Regions from separate parts of the Homo sapiens genome. Here region 2 is linked to region 1. A link means that fine-mapping ties the variant in region 1 to the expression of a gene that starts in the linked region. Tissue or cell type: monocytes after Pam3CSK4. Region 1 holds a variant in brackets; the other region holds the start of a gene. All regions are shown on one strand. Distances are from middle to middle.

What was found. PIP is the estimated chance that this variant, and not a neighbour inherited with it, causes the effect.
Region 2: it holds the start of HTRA3, and the variant in region 1 is fine-mapped to the expression of HTRA3 in monocytes after Pam3CSK4 (Quach 2016, PIP 0.95). The same link has a PIP of 0.9 or more in monocytes after R848.

What each region holds. Positions count from the first base shown.
Region 1 is chr4:8,353,641-8,356,398 of GRCh38, forward strand. It overlaps a transcript of ACOX3 not described here. Among named protein-coding and RNA genes, the nearest start is that of LINC02517, 35 kb to the left of the region's middle. RefSeq lists an enhancer at 1-199. The variant C/T (reference allele first, on the strand shown) is at 1,198.
Region 2 is chr4:8,268,640-8,271,139 of GRCh38, forward strand. It overlaps HTRA3 (HtrA serine peptidase 3), which reads left to right and starts at 1,115. Exons shown (of 9, transcript NM_053044.5): 1 at 1,115-1,714. The coding sequence starts at 1,330. LOC105374373 (a long non-coding RNA gene) reads right to left here and starts at 1,542. Exons shown (of 2, transcript XR_001741572.2): 1 at 1,468-1,542; 2 at 1-757.

The DNA of each region.
Region 1 (2,758 bases):
GGGGTTCTGTTAGTGAGGAGGAAGGGTTGGAAGTTGGACAGGAAGCCCACAGGGTCCACCACACAAGGAGAGAAGCCAAGACCCCCTGACTTCCAGGGGACCCATGGCTGGGGCATGCTTCAGATGGGGACACGGCCCCATGGGACCCATGAAAAGCCTGTGAAGTGTCTTAGTAAAAGGCCCACATGAACAAAGTCAAGGAGGAAGGCAGTTTCTGGTGACGAGGAGGTGGTCCTATGGCACATGCTGTCCCCACACAGTGCTACGTGTAGCTAGGTGTTCACTAAATGCTGGTCAGATGGACACTCCCTGCTGGCCGGCAGCCCAGGGGCTGGAACCACCTAAAACCTGGAGGGTGGGGTGGATACACAATGATGGGGGAACGTGATTCACGCTTGGGCTGAGCCGTCAGAAGTGCATCCAAACCAAGTTTCCAAGAGGCTGCTCCATGTCAACTACACATCCTAAAATGAAAGAGTTCCCACGCCTCCGCCACCATCAAGATCCTTAGCAGTGACAGCCGCAAAGACCTCAACCCCAAGATATTTCTGGGCTTTCACAGATGATGGGGTCTGGCTGATTTTTATCTTCTTCATCCGCCTGTGGTTTTGAGATGTCTCTGCAGGCATGCATCCCAGCTGGCCCCGTGTAGCCGCAGGAAGCTCCCTCTGTGTTTAAGCTCACAGTGAGAAACTTCTCTCATTCTGCAGGCATCTCCCTTGGTGAGTCACAGAGATTTCTGGCCACGGGCACAACCATGGGCACACACTTGTGTCCACTGCCAAGCAAGACTGTCTTTCCAGTCCACCGTCCACATGGCATCAAACTAATACGAAGGCTGAAGGCATTCCCATAATGGCAGACACCAAGCAATGGTTCCCCAGCATGGTGTGAAAGATTGATCCCGCAGGGCCAGCAGATGTCATTAGACAGGAAAGTTAAATGACGGGTAAAAGTTTTGGAAGGTGTATTAGTCCGTTCTCACGCTACTATAAAGAACTGCCCAAGACTGGGTAGTTTATAAAGGAAAGAGGTTTAATTGACTCACAGTTTAGCATGGCTGGGGAGGCCTCAGGAAACTTACAGTCATGGCGGAAGGGGAAGGAAACACGTCCGTTTTCACATGACGGCAGGAAGGAGAAGTGCCAATTAAAAGGAGGAATGCCCCTTATAAAACCATCAGATCTCATGAGAACT[C/T]ACTCACCATCACAAGAACAGCATGGAGGTAACTACCCCGTGATTCAATTACCTCCCACCAGGTCCCTTCCATGACTCGTGGGGATTATGGGAACTACAGTTCAAGATGAGATTTGGGTGGGGACACAGCCAAACTATATCAGAAGGGTAAGGGTAAACCATCACTATTTGCCAATGATAGAGAAGGAAAACCAAAGAGAATCAATGAAAAACTGTCATAATTAAAATAAGGTTTCAATAAGGTGACCAAAATAAACATACAAAAATCACACAGCTTTTTATTACAAACAGCTTGAAGAAATAGTCTTAGATGGGAAGACCACTTACCATGAAGACAAAGATTCTCCTGATGTGAATCTAAAAGTTAAACAAAACCTCCAGACAAACTCCAGAGAGCATTCTTTAATATGGGGGTGGGAGAATGCCCAGACTTGACAAATAACACCAAAGTTCACATACATAAGACATTTTTGGAAAAGATGAGAAACGAGGCTTTATTTGCTCCAACAGATATTAAAAGTATGAGAACCACAACCATGAAAACAACAGAAGCTGATGTGAGAAACAACACTAAAATTAAACAGTGCAGACACAGGTCCAGCGACAATGATTTTAGCACTCATACAGGTGGCATTTCGGTCAGTGCATGATGATTCAGTGGGCAAAGCATTTCAGATCCTTGTCTCATATCACACCTCGAAATACATTCCTGGTCAATTAAACACTGAAACGTACTCAGAGAAAAAGAGATGAAAGTGTAAATAATCTTTGTGTGAGAAAGGACTTTCCAAGCATGACCTCAAAGGCTAGAGCATAAGAGTCTTCGTTTTAAAATGTGCAGGCATTTCTGATTTAAAAATGTAAACTATAGCAGGTTACATCAAAAAGGAAAAAAATACAGTTAAATGGCAAATGATGCATGAGGAATAATGATTTACAGTGAATATGTTACAGGTTTGCTGTGCTTAATATGTACAAATATCTTACAAGCCAACAAAATATTTTCAAAACTAAATGCCTTCTTAGATAGAGAACAAGAATGGGCAGTTATCACAGCAGAACATATATGAACAGACTTCAAGCACGGGGGAAGGTATGTTCAGCCACAGTAGGGGCAATAAGAAGGAAATCTATACAGAAGACACCAATTTTATGTTCTCATCAGGTCGGCAACAGGCAGAGAACAAACAGGCCACTGCTGGCAAGACTCCTACATTCTAGAGGGAATGAGGGCTTCCTGTTGAACATGCTGGGAAGAGGAGACTTACCATGTGCTGTCTGCAGGCCGGGCTTTGTTGCTTTCATGCATTAACCCGTTTTAACGCCAACAACAGCAGGATGAGGAAGATTCTCTTATTCATTTCATCAGTGAGGGAAGTCCCACATCCAATAGACAGTGTAGCTGGTGTCCATCCAGGAGCCTGCCCTAGACTCTGCTCCCTCATCCCCACTTGTGGCTCTACCTGCCCCACTGCCTCCCACACTGCTGGTATAAGAAATCTCCCCTGTGCAGAGCATGTCTCAGCAAGCCACTGGGACCAACTCACGCACAGTGATGCAT
Region 2 (2,500 bases), 85 kb before region 1:
TCCAACTGAAGTCCAGCATTCATTCCTTTGGGGGTGCAGTTGACCCCAGCCAGCAGGGCCTGTGGCTCCACGGCCAGCAGAAGCAGTGTTTACATCCCCATGTTACCGCCCTCACCGAAGGTGTCTCCAGTGGCAGCCCTCTGCACAGGGCTGCTGCGAAGTGTCCACTGGTATCAGACGACAGACCGACCAGAACCTGCCATTAACATGCTGATAAAGAAGCCCATAGGCCACGCTGTCATGAATTGTTTCATGTATTTTGATAACTGTGTTTTGATAGAATTGTTCCCCTTTGTGACCCCATGGTCTTTGTTTTATGCGTTTAAATCTACTTGACGACATCGTTCTGAAAAGGACACCCAGGCTTCGCCAGGCAGCCCAGGGTACTAGGAACACACACAGTGTGAAGACCGCAGCTCCAGGCTGTGCGCGCGGCGTTATCTCCTGCTGCCCCGACCTGCTTTTGCTTGGGAGCCTCTGCCCAGGTCACGGCCAGCTCCCGCTTCCCATCCTTCCTCTTCAGGCTTGACATTCACCTCCAAGGGGGGTTCTGCCTTCTCTCACAACTCCGCAGCCTTCACCCCATCAGCTGACGCACTGTCACCAGATTCTGACTCTCGTGATGGGACCTGGGTCTGAAGGGGCCCTGCAGAAAATGCAGGAGCAATGATGAGAATGGAAACAGCTTCCGGTTCCGTGGACAGCGAGGACTCGGGAACACTGCTCAGCCATGGCCTCTGTGGTTCTTCCAACGACCCTATGAGGTTGAGAAATGCTGTCAATTCCCCTTTCCTGGAGGAGGAAACTGAGGCACAGAGGAGACTGGACACGGACAGACCCCTCCAGAGCGGGGAGAACGCATCCCCCAACGTTTCTGGGATAGGCTGGGCCCGGGGGTCCCCACCAGAAAGGACCCCTGCGTGTCTGTAGCCTCGGGTTTTCTCGACCAGGCCGACCAGAGTCCCAAGGCCTGCCGGGTGGGTCCAGGCCCGGAAGGCCAGGCGGGGCCCTGTCGGGGCCTGGGCGGGGCTGGCGGAGGGGCCGGGCCGCCCCTTCCAGCGAGGGCGGGCTGGGCGGTCGCCTTTAAAGGCGCGGGACCCGCCGCCCGCGGACCGTCAGGCTGGAGGGAGCTGGTCCCTGCGCTCCCTGCGCCCTGGGGATGCCCCTGCCGCCCTGACGCCCGCCAGCCTGAGCCACCGGCGCATGTGACCGCGCGTCCGCCCCAGTCCCATCCGTAGGCGCCCGGCGCCCGGCCCCGCAGCGGCCTCGTTGTCCCCGCCGGCCCCCGCCCGGTCTCCCGCGCTGCCACCCGCCGCCGGCCCTGCCGCCATGCAGGCGCGAGCGCTGCTCCTGGCCGCGTTGGCCGCGCTGGCGCTGGCCCGGGAGCCCCCTGCGGCGCCGTGTCCCGCGCGCTGCGACGTGTCGCGGTGTCCCAGCCCCCGCTGCCCCGGCGGCTACGTGCCCGACCTCTGCAACTGCTGCCTGGTGTGCGCCGCCAGCGAGGGCGAGCCCTGTGGCGGCCCTCTGGACTCGCCTTGCGGCGAGAGCCTGGAGTGCGTGCGCGGCCTATGCCGCTGCCGCTGGTCGCACGCCGTGTGTGGCACCGACGGGCACACCTATGCCAACGTGTGCGCGCTGCAGGCGGCCAGCCGCCGCGCGCTGCAGCTCTCCGGGACGCCCGTGCGCCAGCTGCAGAAGGGCGCCTGCCCGTTGGGTAAGCGCTCGGGGGCCAGGGAGGAAGTGAAGCTTCTTTCTCTTGGGGAAACTAAGGCCGGGAGTTAGGGCCGAGCTCGAGGTCGCCCTTCCCTGGGCACCACCGGGTGGCCCTTCAGAAATCATCCCACCAGCCCTCTGGTCTTTCAGATGAAGAAACTGAGGCCCGGAAAGGTAAACCGCTGTCCCCAAGGTCACAGAATTAGAGTCAAAAGGGAAACCCGGTGGTCTCCTGGCCACCCGAGGGGCCTCATCTAGGACTGTTTCCAGCTCTGGTCTCTTCAGAACTGATGTCTCGTGCCCATTCCCTTGATCCTTGGACCCCTGCTCTGTCCGGGTATTGAGTGAAGGGCACTCTTTCCTGCCCTAACTCTCCAGCCGGGGTGCCCTCTTGGGTGATGCCTTCTTTCCTGGAGACTGTGGTTAAGTGCATGTCTCCACAGGACTGTGTGGGAAGGGTCAGGGTGCAGGTCCCTGAACTGCTTAGGGCGCCCCAGGGAGAGGCTGCTTGGGGGAGAGAATGTCGGGGTCAGACCCTAGAACAGCCTCCCTTGAGGCAGTCGGCTCTAGGTTGCATCTCACCGTGCAGGTTGACTCTGTACGTGGAGGAAAATGCTGGAAAACCTGCTGTACCTTTTTCCCTGTTTGGGGTGCCTCTTAGGAAAGCAGACTCTGCTGTGGCCGGACAGGGGTTCACTGAAGACAGGCGACGGGCCCCAGGTTCATGGATAGGAGTCAGGGTCCTGCGTGCCATCAGCTTGCAGGTGGCAGGGAGAGATGCAGTAGC